Homo sapiens: one gene and its partners. The protein of the gene in region 1 interacts with the protein of each later gene in a pairwise test. Each region holds a gene or a part of one and is shown in the gene's direction. Other genes may lie near its edges. The genes, in order: TMEM222, TMPRSS2, PRSS23 and FAM174A.

The links.
Region 2: the proteins of TMEM222 (region 1) and TMPRSS2 interact in binary tests that used the Homo sapiens proteins (3 or more experiments, as listed by UniProt).
Region 3: the proteins of TMEM222 (region 1) and PRSS23 interact in a two-hybrid assay, tested with the Homo sapiens proteins (one large-scale study listed by BioGRID and IntAct).
Region 4: the proteins of TMEM222 (region 1) and FAM174A interact in binary tests that used the Homo sapiens proteins (3 or more experiments, as listed by UniProt).

What each region holds. Positions count from the first base shown.
Region 1 is NC_000001.11:27,328,535-27,332,199, forward strand, and holds part of TMEM222 (transmembrane protein 222), read left to right. Parts: intron 1-2,180; exon of another isoform or gene 2,181-2,185; coding exon 2,186-2,270; intron 2,271-2,450; exon of another isoform or gene 2,451-2,603; intron 2,604-2,706; exon of another isoform or gene 2,707-3,535; coding exon 3,536-3,567; intron 3,568-3,665.
Region 2 is NC_000021.9:41,498,071-41,501,735, reverse strand, and holds part of TMPRSS2 (transmembrane protease serine 2), read left to right. Parts: intron 1-3,546; coding exon of another isoform or gene 3,547-3,602; coding exon 3,603-3,617; intron 3,618-3,665. UniProt on the Homo sapiens protein: Plasma membrane-anchored serine protease that cleaves at arginine residues. Participates in proteolytic cascades of relevance for the normal physiologic function of the prostate.
Region 3 is NC_000011.10:86,806,948-86,810,612, forward strand, and holds part of PRSS23 (serine protease 23 precursor), read left to right. Parts: intron 1-683; 5' UTR 684-696; coding exon 697-1,848; 3' UTR 1,849-3,665.
Region 4 is NC_000005.10:100,559,251-100,562,915, forward strand, and holds part of FAM174A (membrane protein FAM174A precursor), read left to right. Parts: intron 1-2,803; coding exon 2,804-2,938; intron 2,939-3,665.

The sequences.
Region 1 (3,665 bases):
TAAACTCTCCAGTCTTCATTTGAAAGATCTTTTGAATCCATGTGTTTCTCACCACCCTGCCCCTGATCCTCTAGTCAGGACCTCCATCATCTCTTGCCAGTGGTACAGCAGTAGCCCCTGAGCTGGCCTCTCCCCCTTTCGTTCTTCCAGGCACATGTACCACTTTCTTGCTCTGCAGTGTTGTTTTCTGCCTGTTGATGTTGTGTCCTTTCACAGGTCAAGGTTAAAAGTCACCTCCTCTGTGAAGTCTTTACTGGCTCCACCCCAGCCCCCTGTAACTGCTTTTTTAAACTGCGTCTCTGGAGGCTTGGCCTGCACCCCTAGCCAGGTGCTTTATGCTCGTGCCCAGGCAGCATTGAGGCCAGGACTCGGCCACTGGCCCTGTGAGTTCTCCTTAAACTGGATCAGTCTCTCCAGCACCCAGGTCCTGTAGGGCCATGGTTCTCAGAACACAGACAGGTCTGGGGTTCCTATGTGTGACATATTGGGGTGCATCTGAGATTTATTGTTGTTTTTTAATGCCCATGGTTTATAAAAAAGGAACTTTTATTTCCTGGCATACACCATGCTTCTGTTCCAATTTCTACCCTTGCACATTCTGTTTCTTTGTTATTTCCTCAGGGAAGCCTTTCCTGAACTCCCCCACCCATACTGGTGTCATGACCGCCCACCTTTTTTTTTTTTTTTAACTTTCTTATTGAGGTATAACTTATGTACCAAACGGTGTGCGAATCTCAAGTATACAGCAGGAAGAATTTTTGCATATCACACACTCATGTAACCGCCACCCAGACGGGGGCTAGAAAGCAATGCTAAGACCCAGAGGACCCCCTTGTGCCCTCCCAGTCAGTTCTACCACAGATTCCACCCCGCTGTGGACCTCTAGCCATAGATCAGTCTTGCCTTTTCTTGGACTTCACGTAAACAGAGTGCTATGTTACGTACTCTGTGTAAGATTTCCTTCATTCACCCTTATGTCTGTGAAAGCCTGTGTTGTGTGTAGCAGAAGTGACACTGTTTTTCATTGTTATGGACTATTTCAATGTATAACTATACCACACTTATTCATCGTACTGTTGTTGAACATTTGGATTCTTTCTAGTTGTTTTTATCAATTTTATTGAATTATAGTTTACATATAATAAAATGTACACATTTTAAGAGTACAGTTCAATGAGTTTTGGCAAATGTTATTTCCCAGGGGTGAGGGCAAAGAAGGTTCCAAAAGTGAAACTGCTGAGGCATTTAGTATAGTGCCAAACTGTTTTCCAGAATGGTAGAAACAGGCCGGGTACGGTGGCTCACGCCTGTAATTCCAGCACTTTGGGAGGCCGAGGCAGGCAGATGACTTGAGGTCAGGAGTTCGAGACCAGCCTGGCCAACGTGATGAAACCTCATGTCTACTAAAAATACAAAAATTAGCCAGGCATGGTGGTGCACTCCTGTAGTCCCAGCTACTCGGGAGGCTGAGGCAGGAGAATTGCTTAAACCCAGGAGGCGGAGGTTGCAGTGAGCTGAGATTGTGCCACCGCACTTCAGCCAGGGCAAGAGAGCGAGACTCCATCTCAAAAACAAAATGGTAGGCCGGGTGCAGTGGCTTATGCCTGTAATCCCAGCACTTTGGGAGGCCAAGGCACGTGGATCACGAGGTCAAGAGATCGAGACCATCCTGGCCAACATGGTGAAACCCCATCTCTACTAAAAATACAAAAATTACCCAGGCGTGGTGGTGCACACCTGTAGTCCCAGCTACTCAGGAGGCTGAGGCAGGAGAATTGCTTGAACTCGGGAGGCGGAGGTTGCAGTGAGCCAATATTGTGCCACTGCACTCCAGCCTGGGCGACAGAGCGAGACTCCATTTGAAAAAAAAAAAAAGGTAGAAACAGTTTATCCCTCCCACCAGCAGTGAATGAGAGCTCTGGTTGTCCCTTGCCCTCACCTGCATTGGTGTTGCTGTCGTTTGAGTTACAGCCATCCTGGCGGGATGCTGAGGTATCCCATTGTGCTGTCGGTTTGCAGTTACCCTTGTCTGTGCTTCCCCAGCCTTCTGGACCACCCTAATGGCCACCTGTCAATGAAACGTAATATTCACATGCTTCTGTACTGTATGAAGGGTCCCCAGCGTCCGTCTAACTGGCTGAAAGATCCCCTAAGCTCTGTCCCTTCCCCGTCCTTTTCCTCACAGGTGGTTTTTCCCCATCATCGGCCACATGGGCATCTGCACATCCACAGGAGTCATTCGGGACTTCGCGGGCCCCTACTTTGTCTCAGTGAGTCCCCATTCTGCCCACCCGGGGGGTTCCAAGGTTTAAGTGGAAGGCTGTCCTGTCTTGCCTGCAGGCAGGCTTCGTCTCCCCAGACCCAGGAGAACGTAGATAACCCGCAGTCCTGGCCCTGGCCCTCTGCCCCTCACCAGTGTTTGACCCCTTTCCCCCTTCTCTTGCCTCCAGGACAGGCCGGGAGGGCAGTGTGGCCAGAAGGATTCTTAAGTAACTGACCCAGCCCTTTGCCCCCACCCCTGGGGTACCGAGACATGGGTAGGGATTAGAGGCAAGAGTGGAGAGTCAGACCATCCAGGAACCACATCTCTGGACCTTCAGAAGGTGGGAGTCAAGGTGGGGGGACACGGGAGGCTGATTCGGTTCCCTGGGTGTGGCCATGGAGAAGAGGGGGTGGGGCTTTAGAATGAAGCAGCTGTGTTCTCAGGTCTGTTCCCTGGGGCTGTGACCAAGACTGGTCCAGTGGGCTAGCAGCAGAGGAGCATGCATCATCCTGTCTCCAGGTGTCAGAGGCTGGACTGAAGGGGTGTGGTGGCACCAACCTGTTTATATTAATAGTTGTCATGATCATCTTAACACGACAAAGGTCTGTCACTTTGTACTTAAAAATACTTTCACATCCATTACTTTATCATATATTTTTATGGTGATTAATCATTGACCAGGTCTGTCAGCAGGGTCTCCCTGATCTGAACCCAGAGTCTGTCTCTGTGTAAGTCCTGTACCCCAGGAATAATGTGATGAGTCTAGGACTTCACTGCAGTGTCTCCCTCACAGGAAGTCCCTCTGGGCCCAGCGCCCCCGCCCTGCTATGAATGCAGTCAGACTGCTGGGCGAGGAGATGGTCTCCATGTGGGCCACCACTGTTGAGTCAGGAGGCCAGACCATGATGGAAACCTCCTGCTGGTCCTCAGAGATCAGAGAAGACTGACCAGAGAACTTGGAGAAAATGAGGCCCAGAGAGGGCAAGAGAATTCCTGGGTGCCACACCAAGGGACAGTGGCAGCTGGAGCCCCAGATCTTTGGTCTCTGATGCAGTGCTCTGTGCACTTGTGCCACACTGCCTTCTTCCTGCAGAACAGCTGCTAGCTCTTTAGATGCCATGCCAGCCCCAGGGCAGGGCCCAGGCCCCACTTCTGGCCCCCCCACCCCTGACATACCCTCTTCTAAGTCACTGCACTTCTGCCACCTACCCAGGTTTGTCATCTGGCCCAAATGTAAGTTCCTCACTGACCTCTGCTTTTGTCCCTCAACAGGAGGACAACATGGCCTTTGGAAAGCCTGCCAAGTAAGTGATGAACACCCATGTGACTGGCTCTAGAGGCAGGTCGCTCCTGCCGGGGCGGGCCAGGCCTTCTGGGGCACAGGAGGGGCCAGCACCCTGAG
Region 2 (3,665 bases), on another chromosome or scaffold:
CTTTTCGGGACAGCAGTGCTTCCCCTTGCAGATCTAATGTCAGAGCGGGACATTCCCCCCCTTGTTTTATTTTCAATTGGAGAATGTTGTTGTTGTTTCTTTTTTTTTTTTTTTTTTTTTTTTTTTTGAGACAGAGTCTCTCTCTGTCACCCAGGCTGGAGTGCAGTGGCCTAATCTTGGCTGACTGCAACCTCTGCCTCCCAGGTTCAAGTGATTCTCCTGCCTCAGCCTCCCAAGTAGCTGGGATTACAGGCACCCACCATCATACCCAGCTAATTTTTGTATTTTTAGTAGAGATGGGGTTTCACTATGTTGGCCAGGCTGGTCTTGAACTCCTGACCTCAGGTGATCTGCCCGCCTTGGCCTCCCAAAGTGCTGGAATTATAGGCAGGAGCCGCCGTGCCCGGCCCAGCTGGAGAATGTTACTGGCAGCATCACTCTGGTCTTCCATTCCAAAGTCCATGGTAACTGACTTGGGCACACGGAATATTTTTGTTTATCATGTTCTGATTGCTGGAAGAGATAGGATTATCCTGTGACTGCCTCTGGGTCCCATGGCTTTTATTTGACAATTAATGGTGGTGGCTCCCGGTGTTCCTTCCTTCCCTGGCTTCCTTGTTAGGGATCGTGAATGAATAGCAAGTGTGGGTTTTGAGTATTGATTCTTCACTCCTTTCAGAGGGCTTCTGAGCTGGGAGAGCTGCCAATGGGATCGAATTTTCACTTCCTGAAACTTCAACCAAACCTGTAACTGGGGAGATAGGACAGCCGAGAAACCAGAGGCATGAGGATGTGTTTGGTTAGGCAGGACTCTTTGAAAGCAATCTTAGGATGGTACTGAGTTCTGTCCTGCTTATGAGACAAGAATGCGGGATTTATTGTGTTGTCAAGCCTGAGGATCCTCTCTCTTCACAAAGCAGACATAGGCAAGGTCTGTTAAGATGTGGCTAAAAGGCTTAAACGTTTTTGATACATTTTAAATGGTGATCCTTCCCACCTGTACATTAGTCACTTTCCTTTCCTTATACCCAGGAAGGTGTGAACTTTAGTTTTAATCCTAGAAAAAGTCCCAAAGCTACAACATGACCTGGTTCTTGTATTTTTATCTGTAATTGAAGAGTAAATAAATGATTGGTGCATGTTTGTTGTAACCTGTTGGGTGAGGTTTCTCGAGACTAAAAAGCCATATACTCATTTTCATTCATGGCAGGCTGTTGGGGTTTTATAGTTTAATGATTCAGCAACCAGTTCTGCTTAGGACACAGGAAAGCGATGGTGTACTGAAGCCGGCCCCACTCTACTTGGCTCCGTGGTGGGCTTCATGTTGGTAGCCTGGGAATACTTACCGAAGGCAAACCTGCGAATCAAGACAGCCCTCTTTTCCTTCAGCAGGTTGTTAAATGTTTATCAGCTTTATAATTCCTCTTATTTAATGGAAAGTTATATAGCACTCATTTTATGCTAAGCATGAAGCACTTCATTAGTATTAACTCATGGAATGCCCTGGAGGTAGGTGTTACTATTATCTGCATTTGCAGATGGGGAAACTGAGGCACAGAACCTTCAATAGCTTCCTCCAGGTCATGGAGAGTGAGTGGCTGAGCCTGAGTTTGGATCTAGAGTCTAGTCTCAGAGGTCAGGGGCTGAACCGCTGCCCAGTGCTGCCTGCTGCTGTTTGAGCACCTGCTTTGTGCCAGCAACTGGGAAATATTCTTCTGTGGCCATGTCACAGACAGTGGACACTGGTCTGGCCAGGTCCGAAGCCCAGAGCCTCCTCCAGGTTCTTGTTCCCTCATTGGGAACATGGTCTTGTGGACGGATAATCTTGAACCCCGTTTCTTAAAATATTCTTTGGTCATTTAAAGCCAAGCGGGAAGGGGTGGAAAAAAGCCCTTTATTTGCTCAGGAAGGTGCATGTTAAAGAAAAAAAAATCGTCCAATGAGACTTGTTAAAATGGTGAAGCGAACTTTATTCAGGACCACGGAGGCAGGTACAGGGACCACAGCCAGCAGATTTTGCAGTGGGAAGAAGAGACTGGGATCCGCTTGAGTACAGTATGGGCAAGTGGGAGTTAATTTATAACCAAGGATCAGGGTGGGGTTGGTGGGTGGAAAAATCACAAAGAGAAAACATCAAGGGTAAGGGGGATTCTGGCTAAACCAACCAAACAGGATTCTTGCTGAAGACAGGCTGGGTGATCAGACATCACCTGTGGCACGGTGGAGGCTGAGGAACCCGATCAGATATCCAGAGTGATCAGATACCGAGGGTGGGAGGTTCTGGCTAAACTGACTGAGCAAGGTTTTTTGCTAAAACTGGATTTTACAAGGAAATGCACAGATGGCCTAGAAGGTTCAGGAGCTTGATATAAGTTTGATCAAGCGAAGAATCTTTGTCCATGGAGAGTGATGTCAGAATGCGGCTTTACTATACAGCATTTCGTGTTGACGGCATCTCTAGCTATTATTGTTAACTGTTCACAAAGGACAACAAGCAAAATGGCCCACAGCTTTCTTTTCATTACTGCTAATCTTAGCAGTGGTCAAAATGGTTGGCTCTGAATTTCTTTCTTTTTTGGGTTTGGGGTAGTAAATGGAGTGACTGTGGACATGTTTTATGGATTATTTTAAGCGTATGTATCTATTAAAAATTGAGAGGGCCCACATGGCCTGCTTTAAAAAGTCAACTGTGAGCTGTATTTGGTGCTGAGCCCTGAACCACCCGCTGGGCAGTGGGTGGCTACTGGCAGTGCCTGTGGACGTTCTCGGGGAAAGACGGTCTGATTGCACCTGCTCTTCCTCAGTTCCTAGTACTGTGAGGCACTCTTTCCCCACTCTCCCACAACCCTCAGCTTAACACAACTGTGGTGATTGCTTTGTCCGTTTTCCCATGAGGACCCTGAGATTTCAACAAGGTTCAGTAACTCACACATCGACACTTCCAGGGAGCTGTGTTGCCAGGAACTGGCCCAGGTCTTTCCCTCCTGGGCCCATCTTGTCCTTAATCTCTGCTGACATTGATGGGTTTAGTTACCTTGTCGTGTTTCTTCAGTGTTTTATGCCATACAGTCTCCCTTGAGTAGATGTTCTGTATAGGGGATATCACAGCTTCCTGGTGAGAACTGGGTTAAGTCCAGCAGGATGCCTGGGCTTAGTGGCACTGGAGTTGTGGGTGGCCTTGAGCCCCAGGCAGTCCCCTGAGAGCCCTTCCCGATGGATGTTTGAGTCACTGAGTGTGTTCCTTCTTCTTTCTGGTCAGGCTGTCCTGGCCGCTGCACTTACAATTGCACCCCATCCTCCTACCCACTCTGATCCCAGAGGAGAGTGCTTCTGCTGTAACCTCTAAGGCACAAGTGGGTCCCAAAGTCCTTAAATATGGAGGGATGTGGGGAAGCAGTGGTGAAGATGCAGGCCAAAGGTCAGCAGGCAACACTGGTCTTTGTTGTAGGTAACCTTCATCTAGAGATTCTTCTAGTTCTTTCCAGATTTATCTTCTAAAAACTAACTGGTATGGAAATATTACAGTCCTGTAATTCTTTCTTCTAGGTCATATTGAACATTCCAGATACCTATCATTACTCGATGCTGTTGATAACAGCAAGATGGCTTTGAACTCAGTAAGTGGTTAATTATTACCTTCCTGGCCTTTTCTTTGTTCCCTTGTC
Region 3 (3,665 bases), on another chromosome or scaffold:
TAGAAGCCTAGCCACTCTGGAACTCAATATATATAATAGTAAAGGTTGTTGTAAATTCAAAGCAAAAAACAAAACAAAACAAAAAATCTCATACCCTTTCTCGAGTGCACCATCATTTAAAAACCACAGGAGTGGTGGTAATTGTGACACTGTGGAGCTGTCCTTCTTTGATGTCTCAGTCACTCAGTAAGCCATGTAATTTAAATTGACCCTCTGAGTGACCAAGTTGCTCTGAAAATTTTCCAAGTACATGTTACAATGAGAATGAGAGAAGGAGGAGGGAAAGGCGGGGACATCATGAAGGTAGAAGAGGAGGAGGTTTAGAATCAAGCACAAAGAGGGCTCAAAATTACGTGGAAATTGGGGCTGGTCAGTCAGTTAGCCAGGGGACTAATGACTTTATGCCTGCTACTCTGCAGTCTACCATCATTAGGGACATCTTAAACATAGAAAGGAAGGAACACCCAATTTCACTTCAGGCACCCAGCCACAGGAACTTTCCTAAGGTTGAGCCTTTGCGTTGAAAGTGAGACCGTTATCTAAGGATTCCTCTCCACACCCTGATTCCTGAGGAGTGTTCAAAGACTCAGAAACAATGACAGGCCTGCTGCTGAGCTTTGCTGTCTGCAGTAAATGAACGTTCAGCCCTTGCCCTCCTGACCTGCTTGTCTTTGTTTCTACAGAACAGTGCTCGGCATGGCAGGGATTCCAGGGCTCCTCTTCCTTCTCTTCTTTCTGCTCTGTGCTGTTGGGCAAGTGAGCCCTTACAGTGCCCCCTGGAAACCCACTTGGCCTGCATACCGCCTCCCTGTCGTCTTGCCCCAGTCTACCCTCAATTTAGCCAAGCCAGACTTTGGAGCCGAAGCCAAATTAGAAGTATCTTCTTCATGTGGACCCCAGTGTCATAAGGGAACTCCACTGCCCACTTACGAAGAGGCCAAGCAATATCTGTCTTATGAAACGCTCTATGCCAATGGCAGCCGCACAGAGACGCAGGTGGGCATCTACATCCTCAGCAGTAGTGGAGATGGGGCCCAACACCGAGACTCAGGGTCTTCAGGAAAGTCTCGAAGGAAGCGGCAGATTTATGGCTATGACAGCAGGTTCAGCATTTTTGGGAAGGACTTCCTGCTCAACTACCCTTTCTCAACATCAGTGAAGTTATCCACGGGCTGCACCGGCACCCTGGTGGCAGAGAAGCATGTCCTCACAGCTGCCCACTGCATACACGATGGAAAAACCTATGTGAAAGGAACCCAGAAGCTTCGAGTGGGCTTCCTAAAGCCCAAGTTTAAAGATGGTGGTCGAGGGGCCAACGACTCCACTTCAGCCATGCCCGAGCAGATGAAATTTCAGTGGATCCGGGTGAAACGCACCCATGTGCCCAAGGGTTGGATCAAGGGCAATGCCAATGACATCGGCATGGATTATGATTATGCCCTCCTGGAACTCAAAAAGCCCCACAAGAGAAAATTTATGAAGATTGGGGTGAGCCCTCCTGCTAAGCAGCTGCCAGGGGGCAGAATTCACTTCTCTGGTTATGACAATGACCGACCAGGCAATTTGGTGTATCGCTTCTGTGACGTCAAAGACGAGACCTATGACTTGCTCTACCAGCAATGCGATGCCCAGCCAGGGGCCAGCGGGTCTGGGGTCTATGTGAGGATGTGGAAGAGACAGCAGCAGAAGTGGGAGCGAAAAATTATTGGCATTTTTTCAGGGCACCAGTGGGTGGACATGAATGGTTCCCCACAGGATTTCAACGTGGCTGTCAGAATCACTCCTCTCAAATATGCCCAGATTTGCTATTGGATTAAAGGAAACTACCTGGATTGTAGGGAGGGGTGACACAGTGTTCCCTCCTGGCAGCAATTAAGGGTCTTCATGTTCTTATTTTAGGAGAGGCCAAATTGTTTTTTGTCATTGGCGTGCACACGTGTGTGTGTGTGTGTGTGTGTGTGTAAGGTGTCTTATAATCTTTTACCTATTTCTTACAATTGCAAGATGACTGGCTTTACTATTTGAAAACTGGTTTGTGTATCATATCATATATCATTTAAGCAGTTTGAAGGCATACTTTTGCATAGAAATAAAAAAAATACTGATTTGGGGCAATGAGGAATATTTGACAATTAAGTTAATCTTCACGTTTTTGCAAACTTTGATTTTTATTTCATCTGAACTTGTTTCAAAGATTTATATTAAATATTTGGCATACAAGAGATATGAATTCTTATATGTGTGCATGTGTGTTTTCTTCTGAGATTCATCTTGGTGGTGGGTTTTTTTGTTTTTTTAATTCAGTGCCTGATCTTTAATGCTTCCATAAGGCAGTGTTCCCATTTAGGAACTTTGACAGCATTTGTTAGGCAGAATATTTTGGATTTGGAGGCATTTGCATGGTAGTCTTTGAACAGTAAAATGATGTGTTGACTATACTGATACACATATTAAACTATACCTTATAGTAAACCAGTATCCCAAGCTGCTTTTAGTTCCAAAAATAGTTTCTTTTCCAAAGGTTGTTGCTCTACTTTGTAGGAAGTCTTTGCATATGGCCCTCCCAACTTTAAAGTCATACCAGAGTGGCCAAGAGTGTTTATCCCAACCCTTCCATTTAACAGGATTTCACTCACATTTCTGGAACTAGCTATTTTTCAGAAGACAATAATCAGGGCTTAATTAGAACAGGCTGTATTTCCTCCCAGCAAACAGTTGTGGCCACACTAAAAACAATCATAGCATTTTACCCCTGGATTATAGCACATCTCATGTTTTATCATTTGGATGGAGTAATTTAAAATGAATTAAATTCCAGAGAACAATGGAAGCATTGCCTGGCAGATGTCACAACAGAATAACCACTTGTTTGGAGCCTGGCACAGTCCTCCAGCCTGATCAAAAATTATTCTGCATAGTTTTCAGTGTGCTTTCTGGGAGCTATGTACTTCTTCAATTTGGAAACTTTTCTCTCTCATTTATAGTGAAAATACTTGGAAGTTACTTTAAGAAAACCAGTGTGGCCTTTTTCCCTCTAGCTTTAAAAGGGCCGCTTTTGCTGGAATGCTCTAGGTTATAGATAAACAATTAGGTATAATAGCAAAAATGAAAATTGGAAGAATGCAAAATGGATCAGAATCATGCCTTCCAATAAAGGCCTTTACACATGTTTTATCAATATGATTATCAAATCACAGCATATACAGAAAAGACTTGGACTTATTGTATGTTTTTATTTTATGGCTCTCGGCCTAAGCACTTCTTTCTAAATGTATCGGAGAAAAAATCAAATGGACTACAAGCACGTGTTTGCTGTGCTTGCACCCCAGGTAAACCTGCATTGTAGCAATTTGTAAGGATATTCAGATGGAGCACTGTCACTTAGACATTCTCTGGGGGATTTTCTGCTTGTCTTTCTTGAGCTTTTTGGAAGGATAATTCTGATAAGGCACTCAAGAAACGTACAACCACAGTGCTTTCTTCAAATCATATGAGAAATACTATGCATAGCAAGGAGATGCAGAGCCGCCAGGAAAATTCTGAGTTCCAGCACAATTTTCTTTGGAATCTAACAGGAATCTAGCCTGAGGAAGAAGGGAGGTCTCCATTTCTATGTCTGGTATTTGGGGGTTTTGTTTGTTTTTGCTTTAGCTTGGTGAAAAAAA
Region 4 (3,665 bases), on another chromosome or scaffold:
TGTTGAATATTGGCCCCCACTATCTTCTGGCTTGTAGAGTTTCTGCCAAGAGATCAGCTGTTAGTCTGATGGGCTTCCCTTTGTGGGTAACCCGACCGTTTTCTCTGGCTGTGCTTAACATTTTTTCCTTCATTTCAACTTTGGTGAATCTGGCAGTTATGTGTCTTGGAGTTGCTCTTCTCGAGGAGTATCTTTGTGGCGTTCTCTGTATTTCCTGAATTTGAATGTTGGCCTGCCTTGCTAGAACTTCCCTATCCAGGGAAGTTCTCCTGGATAATATCCTGCAGAGTATTTTCCAACTTGGTTCCATCCTCCCCATCACTTTCAGGTACACCAATCAGACGTAGAGTTGGTCTTTTCACATAGTCCCATATTTCTTGGAGGCTTTGTTCGTTTCTTTTTATTCTTTTTTCTCTAAAATTCTCTTGTCACTTCATGTCATTCATTTGATCTTCCATCACTGATACCCTTTCTTCCAGTTGTTCGCATTGGCTACTGAGGCTTGTGCATTCGTCATGTAGTTCTCTTGCCATGGTTTTCAGCTTCATCAGGTCCTTTAAGGACTTCTTTGCATTGGTTATTCTAGTTAGCCATTTGTCTAATTTTTTTTCAAGGTTTTTAACTTCTTTGCCATGGGTTCGAACTTCCTCCTTTAGCTCGGAGTAGTTTGATCGTCTGAAGCCTTCTTCTCTCAACTCGTCAAAGTCATTCTCCTTCCAGCTTTGTTCCGTTGCTGGTGAGGAGCTGCGTTCCTTTGGAGGAGGAGAGGCACTCTGATTTTTAGAGTTTCCAGTTTTTCTGCTCTGTTTTTTCCCCATCTTTGTGGTTTTATCTACCTTTGGTCTTTGATGATGGTGACGTACAGATGGGGTTTTGGTGTGGATGTCCTTTCTGTTTGTTAGCTTTCTTTCTAACAGTCAGGACCCTCAGCTGCAGGTCTATTGGAGTTTGCTGGAGGTCCACTCCAGACCCTGTTTGCCTGGGTTTTTTATAGAGAAAGTTTAGACCTCTGGTCTACATGGTGTGTGTGGGTGTGTTTGCACACATACACACACATATACATGTTAATGTAACAACCTAAACATACTTAATTTCTCACTGTGAAAGAAAGAGTACTTTGTATTTCATACTGCTTCATTTTTGCTAGTACTAATATTTACTGACCCTTTCATTGGTTACATTTGTAACTTTAAATGCTATGCTTAACTCTCTGTTTCCTGTTCCATCACTTTAGACGTGTATATAGATAGCTCTATAGGTAATGACTGGTGGAAATTTTCTTTGTTTGTACTCACACTTAGTAACATTTTGTAAATTTTAACACTGAGACCAGGCACTTTACACCCAGGTGCTAATATCATACCTGATGCTTAATAAGACTCAATTATTTGTTGAAGGTATGTTTGTTTTCCAGGAGCTTCACTGTCATGTTTGAGGAGTCTCATGTTGCTCTTTACAGTTGATGTTATAGCCCAAGTATTTCTTATCCCACATATGTCAAACAGAGTAAATCAGAATTTATGTAAACTGATTTTATTTGTGATAACTTGCTGAAATATTTTCTATTTATTTTCAAACTCCAGTGGACACTCTTGTGAAACACATTTTGCTGTCTGTGGAGTTGAAGTTGTTGCATTGGAGATGACTTAGGCATTCCTTGCAGGGTCACAGTTTTGGTCGCCAAAGTAGAAGTCACTCAGACCCTCAACAATTAATTGAAGAACATCTTAATTGATACATCACTGTGCTAGGAAGTGGTTATGTAGTGGTGAATAAAGCAGTCTTGGTTGCTGCCCTCAGAGAACTTAGTGGGAGAGACAGATGAATAAACCCCACATAAACATATACATCAGCACATAGGAATGCAAATTAAGGTAAATGATTTGAAGGAAAAGAACAAGTTATTTGAGACACAAACTGGAAGTAGGACTCTAAATCTTGAGATTTCATTCATATGGCTAATAATGAATGTTAAGCACCCTTGAATCTTTTGAATTTCTCTAAGCCAGTGGTTCTCAAACTTGAATATGCATCAAAAGCATAAGAAATGTTTGTTAAAAGACAGGTTTCTGGGCCCCATCTTCAAAGTTTGTTATTCACTAGGTCTGGGCTAGCCATGAAGATTTGCATTTCTCGTAACTTCCTAGGTGACTGTGATTCTGCTGATCCAGAGAACCACACTGCAAGAACCACTGATCTCAGATAATGGTTTATATCACATTGGAATCACATTTAGAACCTCAACAAAATATTCATATTTAGTTCTTTTTTGCTGTACATTTTGATTCAGTTATGTCCTAAACATGGGACTTTAAAAAATACTCCCAGGTAATTCTAGTGTGCAGCTAGAGTTGTGGGCTATCAGTTTAGTCTGTGAATATGCATATACATACAGTTTCTTAGAGGGGCATCTAAACAGTGGTAAGAAAGCGGGGAGGACATGGGGAAAAGGCTGGAGCAGGAGGTTTCAGTAAAGAAGTACCTGACCTAAGCCTTTAAAAATTAAGGTTTAAAGTACGGTACCTGAATTTAAGGCTTAAAAGTTATTTGTCAACACCATCAGTTGACACAGAGAGAAGAGAGTATGTCAGACAGAAGAAACAGGCGATGGCACATAAACATGTAGGAGTAGGTTTTGTTTCATGAAGTTTAATCCTAGGTGGTAAATTTGTTGCATATCTGAAATGTAACCATTCTGATATTGTTTGCTATGTCAGAAACAGAATAATAATTTATTTTATAAATAAATATAAACTATGCCATATTAAATAATTTTTATTCATTAATTTGTTCTATTTGATAGGATGAGAAGAAGAAACCGAAAGACTAGGAGATATGGAGTTTTGGACACTAACATAGAAAATATGGAATTGACACCTTTAGAACAGGATGATGAGGATGATGACAACACGTTGTTTGATGCCAATCATCCTCGAAGGTAAGTATTCCAGTAGTTTAATTCCATGAATCAGGAAGCAAGTCCTTGCCAAGTAAACTGAAGAAGTAAAGTAGACTTTCATTTAACAGCTTATATTCCAACACAGTTTCTTCAGTTCTGTTTACTGAAGTTCTTTTTGCTATCTACCCCATAGCTCACATTCACGTTGTTTTGCTCAAATAGATACAAACAATAGAATACCATCTCAAAATATTTTTTTTAATTTATTCTTCTGTTTTTATCTTTTATTTTAAGTTCAGGGGTACAAGTGCAGGGTCGTTACATAGGTAAACTTGTGTCATGTGGTTTTGTCGTACAGATTATTTCATCACCCAGTTATTAAGCCTAGGACCCATTAACTTCTTCATTCTTGCAATATGTATTAACTTGGGTGTGTGTGTGCATGTGTGTTTGTGTGCGTGTGTGTTTGTGTGTGTGTGTGTGAGAGAGAAATACTTATTAAATTTAATTTCCTTTTTGTATTCTGAAGATATTTTCTTTTTAGTTTGGGTTCTAGTGTTTGTAAATAGTGCTGCCTTGCAGAATTGGGGGACTAATTGTTTATGGTCTGATCATGTAGCTGTAATATATATACTGAGATCTATTCTCAGTAAGTGTTAAGACCTTTCCTAAGAGGTTTAGATAAATAAAATGACATGAGTATAGAATAAATGCCAATGTAAATAGAATGGGGAAAAAAGCCAACAAAGATTCAACCTAATAAGGA